3 separate regions of the Homo sapiens genome follow, and regions 1 and 3 are each linked to region 2. Evidence: fine-mapped expression QTL. A gene starts in region 2. Each other region holds a variant in brackets. All regions are shown on one strand. Distances are between the middles of the regions. Region 1 overlaps MYLK (myosin light chain kinase). Region 2 holds the start of MYLK-AS1 (MYLK antisense RNA 1). Region 3 overlaps MYLK (myosin light chain kinase).

Region 1 (8,178 bases), 76 kb after region 2:
GCTGGCTGCCTTCTCATTCAGATGACCTGGCCTCAGAACTAGCAGTACTGCCAACTTCAAGTCAAATCATGGTAGCCAATACTTTAATGAGGCTCTTGAGTTTTGCTGATTTTATTAGTTGCTTATCTGAGCAAAACTCTCCTATTTTTCAGATTTAGTTTTTGCAGATGGTTGGTTAGTTACAGATATCTGTGTTGTGTTCATTAACCCTTCATCTCCCCCAATGCTGTTTGATTTCATGAAGCCTCACAAACTAGCAATTGAAACCATGCTTTTAAGCTATGTCAACCCCAGCAAATTTGAAACTGGTTTGTTTGCCTGGCTTTCTCATTCAGAGAATGGTGCTAATATGTTCCTACCTCTTAGGGTTTTTGCAAGCATCAAGTAAGCAAACATAGATAAAGTACTTGACCGCTACTCTCCCACCTCCAGCAAGGCAGGAAGGCCAAAGGCAATGGCTGCAAATGACCCTGTGTATATGGAGAAGAAAAATCTGCATGTATATACATGTGTATATGAGTATATATACTCATACTCATATTCATTCTTGTCCCCTCTCCCAGCCCTGCCGATCCACATTCCAGCCCAGAATGCACTGCCCAGAAACTGTCTACCCCAATAACCAAAGCCCTGGGAATGATTCTGGGATTGTGACAGAGCCACTTCCCAGTGCTGGCAGTCATGCCAGAGGCCTCCTGTGATGGAAGCACTTTCACTGGCTGTTTAATATGTTCTCTTAGAAAAACTGTTTGTTCTGAGAGATATATTGGCCTTTTTTGAAACATTTCTGGTTTTGGCTAAGATGTTTATTACTCTAAACTCTCTTAAAGACAAGTGGTTCAAGTCCTCTCAAGACCCAGCTAAGGAAGTAAAAAAACCTGAAGAGGGATGGAAGACAGACCCACTATTCCTCCCAGAGAAGACTGCCTGGAGACCATGTGATTGGCCACAGTTGGAGTTGTGTGGGCTTATAAACGAATGCACTCTGCCAACTGATCTTCCTTCTGCTTTGGTCAAGAAAAGAAAACTGAGAAATGGGTGTTGCAGAAGAGGTGCCATTTGTACCCTACCCTGTTACACATGTCTCTTGGCTGAAAATGAGAACCTATACATGACATATGTGATACGTAAGACTTGTCACACAAGAGAAGATGCAAAATTTGGGGCGAGGGACTTTAATTCCAAGTAAAACTCCAACATTTTTAAGGAATTTGCTACCAAATTAAGGAGTTCAGAAAAGACCCAAGTCAGAAGTCCTAGGAGATTGGAGGCCTCCCACTCCTCCACCTGCCTTTAGAGCTGTGGGCTGCACCTAATGCTTTCTGTTCTTTCTAAGCTATGAGCCCCATGCAGTGGCTGAACTAGTAAAGGGATGAAAACTCTCAGAAAAGAACAGATGTCCTTAGAACAGGGAGCTCCTGTGAGCTTGTCCTCCACGGCGACACACTCAGACTGGGAGGGAGACCCTGGGCATCTCTGGGCAAAGGAGACTCCACATTTCCTCTGAATTCTCCCAGGGCTCCCTGGAGGCTTGACTAACAGAATAGGAAACTCAGCTCAGTCTAAGACAAGAGTCTCCAGTGGCACCAGCTCCAGGATTTTCTCCTCAGCAAATGTTCTAATTTCCAGGAAAATGGAGGATCCTGTCCTACAGCTTCCCACTAGAGTAACTGCTCTTGAGGTCTCTTGGTCCTCGCTTATTTGAAGATGACCAGTGGCTATGCCTAGCCCCACCTGGATGTCCCTTCCCTGGGACTTCAGCAGCTGCTGGAAGGGCCCCCACATGTCATCTACCTGGATAATCCTAGCCCTTGGGAAATGGGTCCTCAGCAGCTAAGGCATTTTGCTTATCAAGAAAACCCAGTAGTCAGTGGCAGAGCCAAAAGGAGATTCCAAAAAGCCTCTGGACCCTCGCTCCAGGGCTCAAGACTTTCCAGGCTATCAGGCAGAATGAGCTCAAGAAGGCATCTTGCTTAAGCCTGAGCTGAGCATTAAGATGGGAAATCATGCAAGCTCCAAACTCAGTTAGTATTTGGGGATTATTGGGTATTTGGGGTTCTCTCTACTTTGTTTTTCTCCTTTAAAGATATGAAAAGAGACCTGCTTTTCTCGTGCTGGGTGAGTGACCTTAAGGAATCCATCTGGGTATGCTGCTCACTGTCCCCTCCCTTATTCCCCACAGGCCAAGACCAGGGGCGCATGTGCAGGAAGAGGCTCTGAGCATTGCAAATTCCTGGGCTGCCTTTTAAAATATAATAATAATAAGTCTCCAAAATAGCTAAATATCACTCATTTAAGCTAACAGAGGGAAAGGCTAGTTTTTATTATTGTTTGAAAAATAGGAGCCAGAGAGGATCTGAAAAGAAAGTGGCCCTTTAAAGAATATACAATAAGAGAAGTTTGCTGCTAACAAGGAGGAGTTGTATTAAACTGGCCTTATTTAGCTGGTCTGTAAATGCATGAAAACTGTCCGGAGCAGACCAAGTGATTCCTGTTTTACCTCATGTACATTTTACATCTGCTTAATAAACCCTGATCAGGGAATACAGAGATGTCCCTGAAGATGCACAGGTAAATCTGAGCTTCATCCAGGTTTACTTTGAACTAATTCTAAGTGTACAGGCTCTGAATGAATGTGGCTTTGCTGTATCCATCAATGTGAGTCCTATTTTATTGAGCAATTCTATTCTTAGTTCTTTGAGGGGGAGGCAGACAGAAAGCCTCGGTTCTCCTCCATTCCATTCCCCTCCCAGGACGGCATTTAACATGCTGCTCCTGCCAGCTGGCAGACAGCCACGCCAATGGCCCTGTCAGCACTGGCTGCAGAGAATAAGAAACTAAACCATAAAAGGCCAGAACTGCAGCCCGCGTAGTGGTGATCGGAGGAGGGGAGTGCGTGGCACTGCGCAGGAGCTGGGCATCGTGGGGGCTGGGGGGAGGGAGAGCTTTTCTGTAGAAAAGCAGTTCAAAGAAGCTGACCCCAAAGTTGCTTAAGGAGGAGCAGATGAGAGAGAACATCAAAGAAAAGTTTAAACTGATGCTTGCTGATAGGACGGGAGTACAGGGCCAAATCAGTGCTTCAGAACAGATCTAAATGTACCAGTAAAGTGGATCACTAGCACCAAGCCTCCACAGGTTCCTGACTCCTTGGGAGGAAATTATTCAAATAAACACCTGGAGTCACCAAAAAGAGACAGAGTGAGAAAAGGGTTGTTCTTCTCCTTTAGAAATGAAAAACCCATTCCCTGACCCCTTTGTACACCAGTCTTCCCCGATCTGAAACTTCTAACCAAAAGAAACAAAAGAACAGGGTCAGAGGAAGGAAGACAAAGGGAAAAGAGGGGACATGGGACAGGGTGACGGACACTGAGAAATGGCTGAAACAGAACACAGGGTAAAGAAACAAGGCCAGGGAGAGGAACAGAGCAAGAGAGAAGGTAAACAGAAATATGGACAACTGGGGGTGGGGAGTGGATGCTGGAGCTCAGTCCTCTGTGAATTCCCTCTCCCGGGTCCCCTGTGTCCAGGGACAATCTTCCAGGGGGCTTTGCAGTACTTCCTCTCTGGGGAGTCGGGCCAGGGTGTGGAACCTGTGGTCTGTTCTGGTAGCTGGCATGGGCATAGCTCA[C/T]TGGCCACCTCATTTGTCTTCCCAGCTCTGTATTACTTTGACCTTTATCCTCGTGTCTTCCTTATTCACCTGGTTGGACAAGGACTTCTTCTTCCCCAGCTGCTTAGGGGCTGAAGGGAAGTGCTACAGGGCTTCCTAAGGCTCAGCATGAGAAAAATGGAGGCACAGACATCAACAACTCTCTGGCATGTGGACAGCTCCCCAAAAGGCTTGCATGTCTCCCCTCAAGATGAGTTTTGCAGCCAGAGTGTTCCTTTACCTTTTGGGACATTCTGTACCTACTTCACACTCCCATGAGTGGCACTGGAGGACAAGTGTTTGAAAGTTTAGAGCTAGTTCCCACTTAGCCTCTGATGCACTATGTTACTTTGTTCAGATTAGGCCTCAGTTTCTCCTGCATAAGGCTGGAAACATCAGTCCTGTCCATCCTAGTCCTAAGGTGATGATACGAGATGAAGATAGGGGAGAAAAACTGCTTGAGAACTAAGTCAGGGAATCACAGAATGTCAGAGAACAAAGTCAAGGAATCACAGACCACCAGAGAACAGAGGTGAGGAACCATAGAATGTCAGAGAATAGAGTCGAGGAATCAGAATGTCAGAGAATAGAGTTGGGGAATCATAGAATGTCAGAGCTACAAGAGACCTTAAGAGTCAATGTCTACAACTTCTAACTTCATATCTAGATACTTCCATAAGAGAGATTCCAGTGGAAGACTTCTAACCACGGTAGCCACACAAGCCCTGTTACCAACAGATCCTTTTGTTCTGTGTGCCCACGTGTGTGTGCACCAGGAACACACAGGAAAGGCTAGTTTGCAGGAAGTTAAGGTTGGGATCAGCACACACAGCTGAGAGTTTTGTGCACTGCATAAAAGGGGTCTAGTGGGGGCATCTGGGCCAACCTGTCCTCCCCAAGGCCAGGTCATGAGTTCTGGGGTGAGGCTGGGGGTGCTGTACCCTTTTCACTCTGCCCAGCAAGGCCCCTTTTTCTAATTTTCACAAATGTACCCTATAAGCTTGAAAGCCAAGGACAAATGGAAAACCCGCTCGGGTCTCGTGCACATATCAATAAATGCCAGGTCAAAGGCTTTCACATGCACAACATATGAAGGCCCACAAATGCATGAGGCATAGAGTCTACTCTCTCTCTCTGTCTGCTCCTCTGCCTGCTCATTCTTCTGCTGTCCCAAGCACCTGCCACACGGGGAACAACTGGAGCAGAACATGACAACAGCGGGAGACTGGTTAGAAAACTCTCTTGATGCTCCAGGAGAGAGCTGACCAGGGCACGAAGACAGTGTTAAGGGAGGAGAGGAAAAGTGAACTTGAGAATCAGTCTGGAGACAGACCCCACTCAATCCTGGGATGAAGGAAATCCTGGTATGAAGGTAAGGAAAATCGAGTGGAGTCAGGATTGGGAGGTCATGGTGACCTCAGAAGAACAGTCCCTGCAGACTAATGGGGCGTGGGGGTGAGGCCATAGGCAGCTGGAGGGTGCTGGGGGGTGAAGAAGCGGAAGTGCAGTAGAGACTCACCCCTGTCAGAGAGAGAAGGTAGGGTGGCTAGAGTGAGAGAGAACATTGCAGGAGTTATTAATGCCTGTGCATCTGGCTAAGATGGCGACACTTACGGGCTGCTGGGAGGAGCCAGGAGAGAGGAAGAGGTTGAAGAGAGAAGTAGGGATGGTGGAGCCCCCAAGGACCTGGGGTCCAGAGCACAGGAGAAGGGAGCAGCCTTTGGTGGGACCAAGGTGGGCCATCCCCAGAGCCTGGAGGGTGGAGTCAGGATGGGGACAGATACAGACACCTGTGGCGTAGGGGCCAAGAAGTTGACCAAGTTTATGCCTCATGTCTCTTATTTCTCAAATAAGCTAGATGCCAAGGCCTGAGGGCGGGGAACTCCAGGAACAGCTATCACAGAGAGGTGTTGATAGAGACAGGGAAAAGGATTTCTGCCCAGCCTTGGCCCCTCTGCTGAGCCTGGAGGTCAGCAGGGTCTAGCAGGGAGTCTGTGGGTTGCCGTGATCTTCTTTCTGTGGTGCCTTATAAATCAGGCACAGGAGTGGTGAGAGATAATGGGTGATGAAGTCCTGAGGCCCACGTATCTTGCCTGGGGGCTCCCTGCCTTCCCCTTGCCCCAAGCTCCATGCCACCCAGCCACCAGACTCACCCACGACAGTGAGGTTGACCTGGGCCTGCCTGCTGCCCAGCTTGTTCTCCACCAGCAGTGTGTAGCAGCCGCAGTGCTCCTGGCGCGCGGCCAGGATGGTGAGCTTGCTGCCATTCTCGCTGTTCTCCACCTTCATGTGCTCGCTTTCCTGGATCTAGGGGCGGAGGATGGAGCAGGTGCTGGAGCCTTGGGCCCCTGGGCTAGGAAAGGAAGGGGGCTCCTCCCCATTCCCTACTTCCTGAAGGATGCAGCTGGACAAGCTGTGGGGGGGCTCAGTCTGGTCTGGACTCTGCCCTTCTCCCTGAGGCCCCTTCTCTCCTACATCCAGAGTCCAGCTTCCCTGAGGGTGCCAGGTCTGGGGTGGGCAGGGAGGGTGTGGAGCAGGGGCAGGATGGATGGATGAACTAGCTGAGCACTCACTGCTCCCAGAAATATCCTGGTCTCCCTCTACCTCTCTGGAATGGGATGATAGGAGAACACATCTCAGCAAAGTCATTCACAAGATCCACTCCAGTGGGTTCTAGCCTCTTCTGTGCTGTCCAATGCTGTAGCCACTAGTCACATGTGGCTATTTAAATTTTAATTAGTTAAGTGGAAACAACCCAGATGTCCATCAACTGATGAACAAATAAACAAAATATGGTCTATCCTGACAATGGAATATTTATTATTAATTCATTGAAAGGAATGAAGTACTGATTCATGTTACAATAAGAATGAGCCCTGAAAAGAGTATGCTAAGTCAAAAAAAGAGAAAGCTACACAGAGAGAATGACATACTGTATGATTCCATTGATATGAAATGTCCAGAATATGCAAATCCATAAATACTGAGAGTAGATGAGTGGTTGTCAGGGCCTGGGGGAAGGAGAGGAATGTCTGCTAATGGGTCTGGGGTTTCTTACTGGGATGATGAAAGTATTCTAGAATTAGATAATGGTGATGCTTGCACAACCTTGTGAATCTACTGAAAACCACTGAAGTGTACACTTCAAGAGGGTGAATTTTATGGCATATGAATTATATCTTAACAAAGCTGCTATAACAATTTTTAATTAATTAAAATTAAATATTCAGTTCCTCAGTTGCACTAGCCACATTTCAAGTGCTCAATAGCCCCATGTATATGGCTGGTGGCTGCCATATTGGATAGCACAGAGATAACACTTTCATCAGGGCAGAAAGTTCTGAAGGACAGAGCTGGGACTTGGCTAAATGTCTCTGAAAAGTGATGAGATTCCATCTTATTTCAGACAACAGTAGTCCAGATGTCGCTCAGGGCAAACATGCTCTGGGATGCTAAAGGCAAACTTCTCATTTCCATCTTTTGAGACCAACCCTACTTTCCTCCCTGTTAGTACTAAGTGTTCATCTCTGGGGCTAGGAGAATTTGAGTGATTTTAAAACAGAGTAACAGAGGGCTCAGAATAAATCTTCACAACTTCCCACTCCTGTGCCAACCCATCATTCCAGGGTCTCTGCTGATCATGCATACAGGCACACACTACCACCGTGGATTGGTGGAGCTGCTGGGCTCCCCAAGTCCTTTCAATGCTGGTTGTCTAGAAATTCAAACATTGTTCCATAGGAACCATTATGATAAATTGTAGCTAGATTTCTGGGTCAGTCAGACACAATTCTATTTATCATACAATTCTTCTATCCAAATACTCACATTTGCTTTTGTCCCTTCAGCATGTGGCAAGTTTAAGTGGTTATAACAGACAGGAATCAGTGGGCTGGCACAGAATCACAGCAAGCTCATGGAGTCTAAGGGTCATCTTGGGTCACAGGCTCGACTTTCCTGACTCTGAATAGGATTCTAGACTGTGCTATCAAACCAGATGAGGGACATGGATGGTTTCTACTTTTCCCCTCACACTTCTATTACACAAATTGTCTACAAAGGCGGGGATTATTGGTAGATTCAGAAGCAAAGGTTAACAAGAACTCAGGTTTGGCAGGTGAGCGATGGGTAGGGGAGTGGCCTCTCCCATTTCTAAAGCTACGAAGAGTGAGGCCATCTCCAGCACGGCATTTCTCATCCCTTTCGGTCCAAAGGCTGTACGGATTATTCCCAGCACCCCCAGTGCCCACCCCATACCGTCACTGACCTGCTTTCGGAACTTCATCCAGGTACAGGTGATGGGCTGAGTGCCTGTCACTTTGCCAAACAGCTCCACTGACTCTCCTGCGCGTACCTTCTGGTCCTCAGGGAACTGGATGATCTGAGGGGGCATTGCTGAGGGAGGACAGGGAGAAAGTGAGCGAGGCAGAAGGGTCTCAGGCATTCTGATCACATTCGACGCCATTGTCCACAGTGGTCTGTTGGCTTCTCTCTTGGCTTCCGGAACCTTCAGGGTAAGACTGAGGGGCAGT
Region 2 (8,178 bases):
TAAAAATCCTAATATAAGCTTGCTTCAGTTGATTTCCCAAAAAAGTCGAATATAAAATACATTCAAGGTAACCTAAGTTAAATGAGATTCTACCCAATCTAGAACATCAAAAAGCCTAGGTATCAACACTTTAGTATGTGAGGAGGCAAAATTTCAAAATTTAACATGAATCCAAAGGGGGTATGCTACTTCAATATAATTTAGTTGCATGTTTTTCTTCATACCAATGGAAATCAATAACAACAATAAATCTCAGGACCTACCTCCAATAAGGCTCCAGTTTGAAAGAATTTCAAAGGCTTTTCAATTGAATAATAAAGGCTATGGTAGCTACCCTTAGCCAGGTATGCTCGGACCAGACCAACCGCTATAACCAGCCACCTAGTAAAAGAGAAAACAGCAATCAGGAAAAAATAAAAATAAAAAAAGTAGCATTTAGGTTAACACACAGCTGTGGCAATAAAAGATATTGCTAAAGGTGACCTCAAGCATGAGTAACCTGGATTTATGGACGATAGCTCTCAAATGCCAAGCTGTAATGCACTGAAATGTTGCAACACCGACAGCACCTTACCAAGAGGGCTCAGTGAAAGCATAGTGGCACCTCACCCATCTGGAGCTCATTTTTTTGGCAACTTTGCTATTGAGATCAAGGCCAAAAGGAAAGGAATAAGCTAAAATGGTCCTTGTGCCACTAAATCAGGTGCCAAGAAAATCTAAGACGAGAAAAAAACAGTTAAAGGAAAATTTTAAACAGCCTGTGCAGTTAAAGGGTTTTTAATAATTACAGGGTGGAAAGAAGATGCTTTAAACTATTGTTATAATTGTCTCACTGGAACAATTACCCATACCTTAAAATCTATCCTTTTAAAATTACGAATAAAGGGCTCTTGCTAAAAAAAAAAAGTTTTTTAGCCAAATTTCCTAAAATCAATGCAGAAATGAAAGCCAGATCAATACAAACCACGAAACAGGAAAGCACTTAAGCATACAGCTGTGAATGTTATATTTTTGTTCCACTGTCCTTCTCAAAAATAAACACAATGTTTTGTTAAGTTCCATAATAAAACAAATGGACCTTTTTATTAAGGTATGTCTCCTGGAAGGATTTAGATAAATGTATAGTATCAACTAGGCAATGGGGTGTGTGTGGTCTATGCTATTTCCAAAAACTATCACATAAGGACATCAAGTAAGAGTTTGTAAAAGAAGAAATTATTTAATGGTGTAACTGGTACAACCATTAACAGCCTTAAAAAAAAAGCTTACTTTGCTCTCACAATCCCAATTTATCTTCCTGGTTTAAGATACCACTCCTTACCCTCCACCCCATTCTCTATGTTCATTGCTCAGGAATAGACTTCTTTCTTCTTACCAATGTACCTCAAAATCCCTCTCCAGTCCAATGCCCTCACCGGCTCTTGCTAAGACAACAAGAATTTTATATATAAATATTAATACACACAGTGAGATTCCTGGATGTTTTTTTAAAAATCAATCTATGTGACCACTGATGTGATATAAAGCTTGTATCTGTACTAGTTCTTCATTGACCTGTGAGTCAAGAGAAATGATTTCTAGATCTGGAACTTCTACTAACAAGTTCTATGATCTCATGCAAGTCACAACTTCTCTGAGCCTAGGTTCCAACACCTACCATTTCTAATACTAGCAATACATATATGATCCTCCCACGATATATTTTCTTCTTCGTGAAAAAAAAGCAAGGTGCTGAACTGTAAAAATATTAATATATTGGCATTTGTCTTATTTTAAAAAGGGATAGGGGGATGTATAAACATATTTGCTTGCATCAGCATCTTAAGGATACACAAAATTAACTGCCTCGAGGGAGGGGAGCTGGGTAGAAGGGAAAGGTGGGAGGAAAGATTTTCACTGTATTCCCTCATGTTTTTCATTTTTAACCCTAACAATGTATCACCTACTTTAAATAAAAATGGATGTTCACTATACAATTCTTTCAACTCTTCTGTATGTTTGAAATTTTTCATAATAAAATGTTAGGACTTCTTAAAAAATTACAAATGAAGATAACTTAAAAATATATAACTGTCTGATGCTGTGATCCTCCTCACCAAAATGACAAGATAAAGAATTGCAGAGCTGAAGGAACCTTCATCACCCAGACCAACCCTTTAGTTTTACAAATGAAAAAACGGAGGCTAGAGAAATAAGATGATTTATCCAAAGTCACACAGCTAGTTAGTGGCAGAGCTTGAACTAAAAACCCGCCGGGATAAGGGATGCACTGAAATGAAAGAGACAGAAGATGGGTAAAACCGTTTCGAGGGTCCATTCTCCCCCTTTCCAGTAACTCTGCCTTCTACTCCCCAGTTTCTTCCCCACCCCAACCCATCCTAAAAGTCTAAACTCATCTAAAGCCTAGCTCTGCTCATGTCGCTGGCCAAAAACTTTGAACGCTTTCCCAATACCTTTCAGATTAAAGCGCAGCCCAGATTTTGAAAACAGCCGCCCAAATGAATGGTCACTCTGCAGCCACAGCTCCTCCACTCCCCATGCTGGCGCCGTTCAACATCCGAATCTGGCCGCCCAGGACGGGCTCCGCGCCGCAGGTAGTCCGGCCGCTGCCCCCGGCCCCGCACCTGTGGCCAGCCCCACCTTTCCTCCCGCGGCCCTCGCGAGCCAGCGCCCGGCAGCCGTCCCCGCGCCCCAGTGCCTGGGAACTTGGCTCGACCCCCAGCGCAGGAGGGAGCTCGCGGGCAGCCACCGGGGCCGATTCAGCGCTCGGCCGCCCTCAGCGCCCAGGTACCGGGTCCCGGGCACCCCCCGCCGGGAATGCACTGCCTGCGGCGGGCCGCGCCGATCCTATCCGCCCCGCCGCTGGCCGCAGGGCTCCCTCCCCGGCCGCGCTGGCTCCCCGCCTCCCCGAGCCCCAGCCTCACCCGGCTGTCATCACCACATTGTAGATGACCAGGTACGCCGTGGCCAGGGGCCCCGGGCCCTTCTTCTTCCGCGTGCCGCTGGCGTCCCCGGCCCCGGCCCTGCCACCGCCGCCCCCATTCCCCTTCGCTGCTGCAGTCGCCGCCACTGCCGCCATGTCAAGTGCCCGAAGCCCGCTCTCCTAGCGCGAGCGGCTCGGGCCGGACTACGCGAGGAGAGGGGGCGGAGGAAGGGACGAGGGGCAGGCGGGGCCAGGGCCGCGGGGCGGAGCCGGGACAGGGTCCACGGCAGCCGCCATCTTGGCTGAGGGCAAAGACGCTCCTGGCGCTCCCGTCTTTCGGCTTGCCTCAGTTGCCACTGCCATCTTGGATCAGGGTAATTCCCGCCTCTTGGGCGCTCCCGGTTACAACCTCGGCGCCATCTTGGATTAGTTCAATGTAGCCACCCTCTCCAGGCCCGCTGCTTCTGCCAGCTGGATGTTGCGTCGTCCCTCGCTATTCGCCCTCCTATAATCACTGCTTCCATGTTGAATCAAAACAATTATGCTTTCGTTCTCCCTTCTTCAATTGCCCTATCTTCACACCTGAACACTATTGCTCCGGTATCCTGCCATTTTGGATCAGGGCGGTTGACGGTGGATTCACTTCCCATCAGCCCTTGAGGCTGCAGGGACCAGCCCTTTGGTAGGTGCGCTTTGCTTCCTAACCCGTTGCCGGGTTGGAGATTCCACCTCCGAAGTTTTCTTTCTGACTTTTGATTTTACATTCCTAGTACAGTGGAGAAGCCCAGGCGGCCTAGAATCCAGTGTCGTCCGTGAGTGCTTGGCTGGTGTTCAAGTGCATCTTCCAGCCTGAGACCGCGTGGACTCGCTCATCGTGAGGGCGAGAGGAGGATAAGCCCATTGGGCTGTCGGCTGAGAGTGAGGTGCGGGGTAAGGGAGTAGATTTATAGCTATAGTGACTAAAAATAAAAGGATGTTGGCTTAGGTGGAAAACCTCTCTGCTTTGGGAAGCTGGAGCAGCTTGTGGGCATTGCTTCAACCAGCTGATCCCACTTTCCATTCATTGCTTTGTTTCAGGAGGTTCTTTATTTGTAAACGTCCCCTGCAATTTTTTACACACCCAAGCAGCTCCTTAAATGTATTACTGTATATGTGGTAGTATAAAATATTTATGGGTTCATTCCAGCAAGTGTTTATGGAGCGTCCACAAAGTTGCCCTGGAGTTCATGGCACTAAGTGAAAGAGACAAAGTCGTCAGTCTCCCAGGGATTATATAGAGCAGCGGCCCCCAACCTTTTGGTCAACAGGGACCGGTTTCGTGGTGGGGGGGTGGATGATGGTTTCAGGATGATTCAAAGGCATTACATTTATCATTAGATTCTCATAAGGAGCACACAACTTAGATCCCTCCAATGCGCAGTTCACAATAGGTTCCCCGCTCCTATGAGAATCTGATGCCACCGCTGATCTGAGGGAGGCGGAGCTCAGGAGGTAATGCTCCCTTGCTTGCTGCTCACCTCCTGCTGTGCCTCCTGGTTCCTAACAGGCCAGGGATTGGTTCTATCCGCAGCCTGGGGCTTAAGGACCCCTGAGGGAACCAGACGAAAATGCTCGTATTAGTTGGTGAAAAGTGGTATCAGGAAGTTATTACAATAATCCAGCCATGGTGATAGTGGTGTGGGCCAGAGTGGTGGAAATCGAGGTGATGAAAACAACAATGAATTCTGTGCGTATTTTAGAAGTAGAATTATAAGATTTGTGGATATGTTAGTTTTGGAGTGTGAGGTCAAAGGCGTTTTGAGCAACTTGTAAGAAACCATTTTTAAGGCGGAAGTCGGGAATTTTGTTTTTTATATGTTGAATTTGAAATCCTTATTAAACATCCAAGTGGAGAGGCTGGATAGACAATTAAATTTAGACCCTGAGGTTCGGGAAGGAAGTCCAATGGGCTAGAGATATAAATTTGAGAGTTGTCAACCTAAAATAATAAAAAAGGTAAGAATCTAGTTTAAAGGAAGTTTATTCAAGCATAAAGGTTGAAGATGGCTACCTGGGAGCATAGATTCAAGTTACCCTAAATATACACTCTGATTAGCAGCGGTTATGAGTGGGTTTTTAAAGGAAAAAGAGGCAGCTTCTAAGTTGTTTACTAAGAATTTACATTAAAATTACATTAGCTATTGATTGGCTATAAACTATTCTTTGTATCACAGATTCCAGGAACATGAAGATAATGGGTGAGGCTGCTAGTCAGGAACAAAATGTCTAAACAGTTGCCCCCAGGCAAACTCTTGTCTCTGGGCCTGATAAATTTTTGCATACTTCACATAGCTCAGACAGCTCAGAGCTGTTTGAGGTATTATCTTTTCTCAGAGTTCTGAGGGTGGTGGTGGTATTTAAATCCATGACACTGTAATCACCCAATACGTTCTTCCTTCCCACTGCACAGACAAAATCAATTCATAGAGACCATGGCATTGCAATAAAGAATTTAATTGACATGAGATAGGTCTTGGAGATGGAGTTATTACTCCAAATCTCCCCCAAAATTCAGAGGGTAGGGTTTTTCAAGAATAGTTTGGCTAAGATCTGAGAGCTATAGTCAAAACAAAACAAAACAAAACACCCACCCCCCCCCCAACACACACACAGTTTGGCAGGCAGGAGGCTGGAGGAATGGGTGCTGCTGATTGGTTGGGAATGCAATTATAGGGGTGTGGAAAATGGTCCCCCTGCACTGAGCCTGCTTCTGGGTGGAGGCCACAGGACTGGTTGAGCCAAGAGTCAAAGGTCTCAGTGGGGTCGTCAGCCATCCGAAATGCAGAAGCCTGAAAGTTTATCTCAAAAGGCCAATCTTAGGTTCTACAGTAGTGAACTGGGGAAGCTGCAAATCTAGTGACCTCTGGAATAGTGGCTGGTAATCATTTAACTTAACAAAGCCTATGTCTTAGCAGAATTCAAGCTCCTCTTATCCTTCTAACCTGGTGGCTTTTCATTAGTTTTACAAAAGTGGTTTAGTTTTGGGGAGGGGCTATTATCGCTTAAACTGTAAACTAAGTTTCTCCCAAAGTTAGCTTGGTGCAAGCCCAGGAATGACCAAGGGCAGTTTTGGAGGTTAAAGATGAGAAAGGAAAACCCCAGATTCACTGAGCCAAAGGGAAAAGTCAAGCTGGGAACTGGGTCACACAAACCTGCCTCCCATTTGGTTCCTAAATAAGATAGCTACAAAGATAAAAGCTATATACTTCCCTCACATTTTACCCACAAGGAAATTCCTTTTAGGCCCAAAGATCTTTACTCTAAAACAGTTCTGTTGAATTTCAACCTGGCAATGTAAGTTGATATCTTCACAGGTATGGGACATAGGACAGAATTCAAAGTCTTCCCTCTCCTCACCTGAGACAAATGCATATCTGATTGCTTCCTCTGCCCTATTGTCTACGTTATCTTATGTAAAAATACAGATTAACTGAGCCAGACTAAGGCATGAATATTTCCTCCACTCCCCACTCACATGAAAATTGTGTATTCAAAAGGATGCAACTGTTTTATCTTTTTATCTACTGACACAATTTAAAAATATTTCTTGGCTGGGCGTGGTGGCTCACGCCTGTAATCCCAGCACTTTGGGAGGCCAGGCAGGCAGATCAGGAGGTCAGGAGTTTGAGACCAGCCTGGCCAGTATGGTGAAACCCCATCTTTACTAAAAATACAAAAATTAGCTGGGTGTGGTGGTGCGCGCCTGTAGTCCCAGCTACTTGGGAGACTGAGGCAAGAGAATCGCTTGGAGTTGGAGGTTGCAGTGAGCCGAGATTGCGCCGCTGCACTCCAGCCTGGTGACAGAGCGAGACTCTGTCTCAAAAAAAAAAAAAAATTTCTCTTCCCCCAGTATCCACCCTTTCCCCTTTAAGTACTGAAGCCCTCAAAATCATCTTTGGAGATAGGCATATACCTGCCTCCCTGGCATGCATCCTTTACTATGGCAAATAAACCTCCTAAAATGATTGAGACTTGCCTTGATCGTGTTCTTTGATTTACAGAGTCAAGGTGGGGGCTGGTTAGATCAGATCTCTCTCAGTCATAATTTTCTCACTGTTACAATTTTTGCAAAAGAAGTTTCAAGACCTCAAGAGATGAAGTGAGAGGCATAAGTTGACAATTGTCAGGGTCCCATCCTTTCCCGCCATGGCAGATTGTTCAGAGATTCTGTTGCCTTGTTTTCCTGAAATTTTTTTTTTTTGGAGACGAAGTCTTGCTCTTGTCCCCCAGACTGGAGTGCAATGGCACACTCTTGGCTCACTGCAACCTCCGCCTCCCAGGTTCAAGCAATTCTCCTGCCTCAGCCTTCCAAGTAGCTGGGATTACAGGTGCCTGCCCCCACGCCCAGCTAATTTTTGTATGTTTAGTAGAGACGGGATTTTGCCATGTTGGCCAGGCTGGTTTCGAACTCGTGACCTCAGGTGATCCACCTGCCTCGGCCTCCCAAAATGCTGGGATTATAGGCATGAACCACCACACCCGACCTTCCTGAATTTTTCAAAGAGCAAGTTGGTGAGCCCAAATTGCACACTGTGATCAGAGGGCAAAAAAATTTCTTTGCAAAAGAAATAAAGAAGTGAACCATTTTACAAAACCAAATAATCATTCATCTAAAAGCTTCTTTCATTCATTTGACTGATTTTTTTTTCAATATAATCTACTTAATGGGAAAGTAGGAGGAGGCAGGAATGCATAAAGTTCTGTTCAGTTGGAAATCAGTTTAAAACTCAATGTATCTTCTTGCAGTCACTTAGGCCCAACTCCAGTCTGTTGTTTATAGCAGCAATCTCCAACCTTTTTGGCACCAGGGACTGGTTTCATGGAAGACAATTTTTCCATGGACTGGGGAGGGAATGGTTTCAGGATGAAACTGTTTCACTTCAGATCAGCAGGCATTAGATGGAGCCTGCAACCTAGATCCCTCGCCTGCATGGTTCATGATAGGGCTCGTGTTCCTATGAGAATCTAATGCCGCTGTTGGTCTGGCAGGAGGTGGAGATCAGGTGGTAATGCTCACTTGCCTGCTGCTCACCTCCTGCTGTGTGGCTGGGTTCCTAACAGGCCATGGACCTGTACCAGTCTGTGGCCCAGAGGTTGGGGACCCCTGCTCTACAGTACAGCCAAAGTGATCTTTTCCACATACAACCTTGTTCGTGTCTACTACCTTCCTCTGCCCCACCCCTGAAGATATTTAAATGGCTTTTGATGACACTTAG
Region 3 (8,178 bases), 45 kb after region 2:
GGACCATCCACCGTGATCAGGATCACTGTGCTCTTCACCTTTCTCCTCACTTGGTCTGGGTCACACTAACCAGAACCAGCATGGGTTGGTGTTAATGAAAGCCCAAGCACCAAGGAAGTGACTGGGCTCCATGGCCTGCTCTTGGGATCGAGGAAGAGTAAGTGCTGCAGGGCAGACGTTTCTGGGATTGGCTGGCACCCTATTCCAGGGTGGCGTCATTCTGCTCCTCTCATGAGGGCTGGGGCCCACAAAGCCTAATCCTCCTGCCACCCTGTCTGGAGGAGGGGAGAGTTAAATCCTAGGATAAAATCTCCGACAATCACTGAACTTTCATGTTTAATGTCTTACGGTGTTGTTGAATATCAGGTTTTTCCATTACAACTCAAAGAAGTAGGTCCTGCCTATAACCTATGAATTATGACTACTTTAGAACTGCGCTGAAACTCACTTCATCTTTCTGAAAGCTCTGGGGATCTAGAAACATTTTAGAGCCATTGCCTTAACTGTAACAGGACTAGGAAAGCCTAAAGAACCAAATGCTAACATACATAGAAAAATGACTGGAAAGAAGTATAGCAAAATGTAGTGAACTTTAGATAAAGGGATTATAGATGATTTAAATTTTATTATATTCTTCAAATCCTCTATAATTTTCATGCATTATTTTTATAGTAGGAAGGAATTTTTTTTTTAAGTGCTGATAGGTGGTGATTTCTGGTTGAAGAGAGGCTGGGTATAAGAGTTTATGGGAATTTAGTGTCTTGATCTATTTGAATAAGATCAGTTCTTTGGTGAATCCATTTTATGAGCACAGAGGGATCCAGTACAGCCTGTTACTGACTTAATTCAAGGTCAGATGAGAAAATAAGATATATACACACACAATACCTTGTTTACCAAATCTTCAGTGAATAAAGCTTGGATGACAAAAGCCATCCTTGTACCAGAGTTACTGAGGAGGTTTCCATCTCCTGAGGCACCTTGGGTGTGGGGGTCCCTCATATTGGAAGAGAATTTAGACTTCCCACAGTATCTCAGTTCTCCTTGGGTCATGCCCATTTCTGATACAGACTGTGACAGCAAAAGGCTAAAAAGATCTCATTGTCAAGGAGTGTAGAATGTGGCCTCTGGGGGAGTTTGGCCCTGAACTGGCTAAAAAGGACTGAGAGTGGGGTGCATCACAGGAAAGCCTGACAGAGCCATCTGAGACACTCCAATATTGCTCCTTCAGCAACTAACTGTGCCTTCCTGCCCCGAACAGCCATTCTTCCTCAGGGGAGCCATCGGCAGCCCCGCAAGGCTGCAAAGTCACCTGGGAGTGCAGAGCCTCCTGCCCGCCCTGGAGCCAGGCCCCTCCCCTTCTCTCTAGCACGCCACCCATGTCAACACCACCCTTCTTGGCAAGGCTACAACTGCTCCCTGGGATTGCCAAGTATAGCTCCAAGCTCCTCGGCACCCCTACAGTCAGGCCCTGCCTCATCTAGTCACCTATTTGCAGAGTGGGTGAGCTGCCCAATAGGCCAGCTGTTCTCACCTGAGTCCCACTGCTCCCTTTCCCTGGGCAGCTCTCCCTACACATGCAGAGCCCAGGACAGTTCCTTCCAGGAGATTCTGTCTAGGCACACCCACTGCCCACCTTCAGCCAACCTCCCACTCTGGTCTCCTCTACAACTCCAAGCTCCAATCTTCTACTGAAACCCAGAGGGCTTGAGTGCCTGACCTTTCCCCACAGCCCATGCATGCTGACCTCCCACTGTTCACTTTCCTATGTTCACAGCTGCAGCAGGCACAGGTGGGGAACCTCAACAGAGGAGGAGCTGGGAGAGGGCTAAGCCCAGTGGTCTGGGATCATAGCCTCCCTTTGGCCAGATGTTAGAACGTACCTGGCTGTATTCAAGCAGGCAGTTATTAAATAACTGAGATATAAAAAAACACTAAGCCAGAATAATAATAATAATCTGGGGATATGATCGGGACCCACAGAGAAGTTCTAAGATGCCCGTGTCCTCTGCTCTTGCTTGTTGAGAGGGTCCTTCCCCTGCAGCCCCTGAAGAGGGCTGTGGCTGGCCACAACTGTACCCAGAAAATAAGAAGGGTGGTCATTATTCACACAGAACAGCTGCCCCTTGCTCTGTAACGTGGTCAAGTGTCGCTTTTCAAGTCAGGTGTCTGAGCCTCTGAAGGTGAATCCCATGTCTAGCTCCAGGGGGCAGGGCCTAGGAAGTCGCCTCCCCAACCCACATGCATTCGGGTCTCTTACCATGCCCACCCTCCCTTCCTCAGGGAATGCTAGGAACGACCCAAGGCGGGGTGGCAAGGAGGGCACCCCAACAGGCAAAGGAATCCCCCTTTGCTTCCCAACACAGGGCAGGGAGTAGGGAAGCAAAGACTGAAATCCCAACTCATTACTTCATATCTTTCTTCAGCAGATTGCTGATGAAATCCTTGGCATCGTCGGAGATCTCATCGAATGCCTCGTCGTCGAAGTCCCAGGTGGCTGAGGTAACGTTGGCCAAGGTTTCGTTATCGTTGTCTCCCATGAAGGGGGAAAGGCCACTGACTCTGGAGAGACAAGAGCAGGACAGCAGGTGTGGCTAGGAGAGGGCGCGACGACCAGGTGAGTGGTAACTGAGGTCAAAGGCGAGGGTCGGCCAGCCTCCCCACCCCCAAACTCATGCTCTGTGGGCCTTGCACCTGCCTTTCTTCCACTTGTGGAAAGAAAAGAGGGTGTGGTTCACAGCCCTGTCTTTTCTTGGTCACCTGCCTCTTGACACCACCTACCTGTGAGGCTGAGGTGCAGCAGGTTGGCTTTAGATTACGGGCTTCTGCAGGGTACGCGGCAGGGCTGATAAGTCCCTCTGTCCTGGTTTTCTATTATTCCCCAAAGCCCAGGCTAGAGCCTTCTCCAAGCCCCTTCCTCCCGTGCTCCTGCCCCCTCTCTGTGGACTGGGCACATGGTAGTGATCACCACTGCACCCTTCTGTCCCCTCCTTCCCACCTCTCTCCACACACCTTCAGCTCCAAGAAGAGGGCCCGGCAAATAAGAGAGGCTCAGCAAGTGAAGTGTGTGCCCAATGGATAGATGGACTTTGAATCAGCAATGTAGGTTCGGGGAACTTGAGGCATTTATGCCAAACTAGAAAACTTCCCTATGAGGTGCCATGGCAGAGGACAGAGTGCAGCCTCTCCGCTTGCTGTATGGCCTTGGACAATTCCCTGATCTGTGTCAGTTTTCTCCTCTAAAATGGAGAAGCTGCCATTTAACTATAGGGTGGTCACTTCTTCATCCTCATCATCATCATGATGGCAGCAGACATTCATTGAGGTTTTTCTATGTGCCAGGCACTGGGTCAAGTGCCTAAAACAAGTGAACTCACTTAATCTTAACACTGCCCTATGATGCAAGTAATTCTTATAACTTTGTTTTACAGATGAGGGAATTGAGGCACAGCCCAGGCTCAAGTCACCTGCCCAAAGATTCACAGCCAGTGAGATTGGAAGCCAGGTATCTGCCTCTAGAGCCTGTCCTCTTAAATGCTATACTATCCTAACATTTCTGTAAAGATGAAGTAAATTGCA[G/A]TGTTCAGCACTGGCACCAGGCCTGGTCCACAGTAAGGAGGCGGTCCATGCCCGGAGATCTCATGCAGTTCTGCTGGGTTCCCTCCACTGCCTTACCAAGCTGTGAGTGCAGGAATGACTTTGTGACCAGCAGCTTAAGCCAAATAAACTTTATAAGGTAAAGAATTTCAAAACAAAATAGAGCAGATTTGTGGCTTACTGACCTTACCTCTCACCTCTGTGCACCTCACCTTCATAGCAACAACTCACCCCACTGTTCATGAGGGCCTTGTGAGTCAGCCTCATGGGTGTTAGACCAGCACAGTTGCCCACAGTCCCACCCTTAGACAGGCCCTGTGCTTGGTTTAATGCTCTGCTGCTGTCGTCTCAAGATTCTCAATAAGGTTTGAACAAGTGGCCCCACCTTTCATGTTGCAAATTGTGTAGCTGTTCCTGCCCTGATCTCAGCTGAGCCCCATGAGATGGGTCTGGGGGCCAGGCGTGGTGGCTCATGCCTGTAATCCCAGCACTTTGGGAGGCCAAAATGGATGGATCACCTGAGGTCAGGAGTTTGAGGCTAGCCTGGCCAACACGGTGAAGTCCTGTCTCTACTAAAAATACAAAAATTAGCTGGGCATGGTGGCAAGCACCTGTAATCCCAGCTACTCGGGAGGCTGAGGCAGGAGAATTGCTTGAACCCTGGAGGTGGAGGTTGCAGTGAGCCAATATCGCACCATTGCACTCCAACCTGGGCAACAAGCGAAACTCAATCTCAAAAAAAAAAAAAAAAAGAGAGATGGGTCTGGGGCCCTCCTGCCATCAACCTGTCAAGTTAGGGCTTTACCAATGTCCCTTCTCCCAAATGCTTATGAATCCATCATCATAAGCCAAGCACTGACAGCTTCAGGAGTAAGGCTTTGGTTGAGTTTGACAGAACAAACCCCACTTGAAATATTGGGAGAAAAAGCTTGCCATGGGAGGAACCCTCTGGTGAAACCTTTTGTAAAGAGAAGAAAGCTTTTACAATGTGAATTGTCTCATCCTAATCAACATATTTGTGTTTCTGAATAATAGATCTTTGTGGATGGGATTTTTTTTTAAAGCAAGACCCTGATTTATGTTTTAAGAAGGCAAAGAGAATCATTCTCGGTCATGTCCCCATGAGGGAAGGGTGGGCATTTACCTGTCCCCGAGTCTGCACTGTTATCTGCTGCTCCTTTCCCCTCTCTGGGCCTCAGTTTCTCCTTTTTCTTTTTTTTTTTTTTGAGACAGAGTGTTGCTCTGTTGCCCAGGCTGGAGTGCAGTGGTGCGATCTCTGCTCACTGCAAGCTCTGCCCCCTGGGTTCATGCCATTCTCCTGCCTCAGCCTCCCGAGTAGCTGGGACTACAGGTGCCCACCACCACACCCAGCTATTTTTTTTGTATTTTTAGTAGAGACGGGGTTTCACAGTGTTCGTCAGGATGGTCTCGATCTCCTGACCTCGTGTCGTGATCTGCCTGCCTCGGCCTCCCAAAGTGCTGGGATTACAGGCATGAGCCACCGCGCCTAGCCAGCTTCTCCTTTTATACATCAAGGGGACTAGGCTAGATTTCCTAGGGGCCTCCCAGCTCTCTCTGTCTCTGTGACCCCGACCCCCACGTGGCCCATGCAAGCCCCATCAGGAAGCAGCCTGTCTCTTGCCTGTCAGCCACCTGCTGCTTCTTTACATTTTCCACTGGAAACAGAGAGGGGGGAAGTCCGGCAGTACTCCAAAAGATGGCAGGAAAAGCAAACAACCCTGCTGTGGAATGCAGAAAGTTCCCCTTCTGCAAACCTCCCTTCCTTATTAGGAACTATAATCCTGCAAAGATAGGTCTTAATCTCTGCAACTCTGGGCACAGTCAGGGAGAGCCTCCTCGCCTCTGGCCTCTGGCACTCCTCCTTCCTGGCAGCCTATCCATCTGAAATACTCTCCTCACCCTGCCTGGCTCCTTGCCTGCCCAAGTTCCCCCAGCATTCTTCCTATTAAAGAGCATGTGTCTGGAATAAAAAATATAATACATACACAGCATGTTGACAAAGAGGGTGTTTGAATTTTCAGTAATGCTGTTGCTGGGTGGTGGGGTTTTACAGGATTTTTAAAAACCTTTTTGGGGAACTTTTTCTTTGTGGCAGAATTTGCATAAGGGATCATGTCTTTTAATTTTTTTTTTTTTTTTTGAGATGCGGTCTTGTTCTATTGCCCAGGTTGGAGTGCAGTAGTGCGATCTCAGCTCACTGAACCTCTGGCTCAAGCGATCCTTCCACCTCAGTCTCCTGAGTAGCTGGAACCACAGGTGCGCGCCAACACACCTGGCTAATTTTTTGTATTTTGGTAGAGATGGGGTTTCACCATGTTGCCCAGGCTAGTCTCAAATTCCTGAGCTTAAGCAATCCTCCCACCTCTGCCTCCCAAAGTGCATTACAGGCATGAGCCACTGTGCCCAGCCTTGTCTTTTTATTTATAAAATAGTCATTATTATTATTTCTTTTTATTTTTTTGAGACAGAGTCTCGCTCTGTCACCCAGGCTGGAATACAGTGGCGTGATCATGGCTCATTGCAGCCTCAACCTCCCCAGGCTTAGGTGACCCTCCCACCTAAGCCACCCAAGTAGCAGGGACCACAGGCGCACGCCACCATGCCCAGCTACCTTATGTATTTCTTGCAGAGATGGGGTTTTGCCATGTTGCCCAGGCTGGTCTCAAACTCCTGGGCTCAGGCCATCCACTCACCTTGGCCTCCCAAAGGGCTGGGAGTATAAGCATGAGCCACTGCGCCCAGCTAGATAACAGTCATTATTTGTTAAAAAAATCAACCGGTCAACAAATAATGTTAGCATTAAAACACCTCTTTATCTCCCTGGTCTTATCTAGTTTTTAACTAATGGATTGATCTGTTTTTCACAAAACTATAATCAGTCTGGGCAAGTCCTTGGATGCTTTACTTTTTCTTCACTGGATGTATCAAGTACAGCCAGACTCTACATGTTGATTTTTAGTGGTCAAATATTAGTCTTTGTGCTGATGAAACACAATGGTCATGAATGCAGGGCATTCTAATTTCTTAATTCTCAGCTCATTGCCAAAGAAATTCCCCCAGGGAATCTGATGTGGAAGCCTGTTTGGCTGTGGGGGCAGAAGGTTAGGAGAGCAGAGGGTGCAGAAATGCCTCTTGGACTACACTTTCTGTGTGTGTGTGTGCGTGTATGTGTGTGGGTTTTAAGAAATGGGGGTCTCGCTATATCAGCCAGGCTGGTCTTGAACTCCTGATCTCAAGTGATCCTCCCATCATAGCCTCCTGAGTAGCTGGGACCACAGGTGCACACTACTGCACCTGGCTTCTGTGTTGTGTTTCAAGCAGCAGACAGATGCCCCGACTGTACCAGTGGCCAGCTAAGGGGACCACACATCTGCTGATGGAACTACTGACTGCTAGGAAGGGGTTAGTCTTTTATCCATATTAGCCATCTGATACTCTGGTGGGAGAGCTGAGAGGGCTGAGTAGGTCCACAGGAAGAGCTGTGCATCATTTTGTGGACTGGCCGAGGAAGCAGCGACCTGGGGTTTAGTTGTGTTAGTAAAAGTTGAAGGTGGTGGCCGGGCTTGGAGAGGGAACAGGGATCCTAGGGCTGGAATCAGAGCGTATTTCCAGGCTCAGCAGCAGAGAGGGCAGCGGCAGCCCCAGGTGGGGAAGGCAGAGGTTACTGGATCTGGCTGAGGAGCCCTGCAGTCAGACCCTGGTCTGAGGAGGCCCCCGATGCCCCGGCACTGTGACCCCTCCTCAGCTGACTGGGCAGCTGTCACCAGAAGAGCTGACCTGCCTCCCCACCATACACACCTCTCCTCCCTCCTGGCATCTCCCGACCACACACCAGGGTGGGGAGGGACAGCTGACAGCTGTCTGCACCACGGTGGGTGTTGGACAAACAAACAAGCATGAATGGGAAGGCTGTGCTGCTGGGCCTGGTCAGGAAGAGGCAGGAGGAGGAAGCAGAGCAGCCATTGCTGGTTCGCTCTGGCTTGAGGGAGGCTGGGAGAGAAGGCATTGTGGAGTAGGGTGAGGGAAGGGCTCGGAGAAGAGCTGTTGTGGCCTCCCCACAGGCAGCAAGGAAGTACCAAGTCCAGGAAGTAGGGGAGGGAGACAGCAGGGGGAGGAGGGCTCTTAAACGGAGGTGGACTTAGGATTTCTCCCGTATGGAAGTGTGGCCTCCAGCTCTCTGGTATTCTCACTTCCTGCCAGAAACCACATGGGTATTGCTAACTTCAGAAGGTCTCTAGGTACTCACACAACCTACTATCTCCTTTCAGGATCCGGGGTAAGAGTGTGGGGGCTCCACGACCCCATTCTGCTCCTTCCCTATAGGGCCAGAAACTGCCCTGATGGCTGGGCTGGGTGGGAGAGAGTAAAGTCACATCGTCCTATGGTGACACGGTCTGTTGCCTTCCCTTCCAACTCCCTGGCCTCTCCATCTCTCACTGGCCCCAGAAAGGAGAACAGGAGGGGCTCTGTGGTACAAAGGTGGAAGTCGCCCTGACAGGGACTGCCCGACAGATGACTAGGCTCCAAAGAGAGGGATAGAGTGGGCCAGAGGATGCCATG

What was found. PIP is the estimated chance that this variant, and not a neighbour inherited with it, causes the effect.
Region 1: its variant is fine-mapped to the expression of MYLK-AS1 in unexposed skin (GTEx, PIP 0.95).
Region 3: its variant is fine-mapped to the expression of MYLK-AS1 in lung (TOPMed, PIP above 0.99). The same link has a PIP of 0.9 or more in cerebral cortex, hippocampus and whole blood.

Annotation. Positions count from the first base shown.
Region 1 is chr3:123,658,306-123,666,483 of GRCh38, forward strand. MYLK (myosin light chain kinase) reads right to left here. Exons shown (of 34, transcript NM_053025.4): 22 at 7,914-8,041; 23 at 5,800-5,953. LOC124909421 (a long non-coding RNA gene) reads left to right here. Exons shown (of 2, transcript XR_007096038.1): 2 at 564-3,194. Among named protein-coding and RNA genes, the nearest start is that of MYLK-AS2, 27 kb to the right of the region's middle. The variant C/T (reference allele first, on the strand shown) is at 3,629.
Region 2 is chr3:123,581,949-123,590,126 of GRCh38, forward strand. MYLK-AS1 (MYLK antisense RNA 1) reads left to right here and starts at 3,565. Exons shown (of 4, transcript NR_121654.1): 1 at 3,565-3,605; 2 at 3,699-3,853. It overlaps HACD2 (3-hydroxyacyl-CoA dehydratase 2), which reads right to left and starts at 3,105. Exons shown (of 7, transcript NM_198402.5): 1 at 2,925-3,105; 2 at 264-381. The coding sequence starts at 3,079. RefSeq lists silencers at 2,430-2,609, 2,620-3,229 and an enhancer at 3,290-3,589.
Region 3 is chr3:123,627,065-123,635,242 of GRCh38, forward strand. It overlaps MYLK (myosin light chain kinase), which reads right to left. Exons shown (of 34, transcript NM_053025.4): 30 at 2,410-2,562. It overlaps MYLK-AS1 (MYLK antisense RNA 1), which reads left to right. Exons shown (of 4, transcript NR_121654.1): 3 at 2,430-2,617; 4 at 3,432-3,757. Among named protein-coding and RNA genes, the nearest start is that of MYLK-AS1, 46 kb to the left of the region's middle. RefSeq lists an enhancer at 1,960-3,159. The variant G/A (reference allele first, on the strand shown) is at 3,580.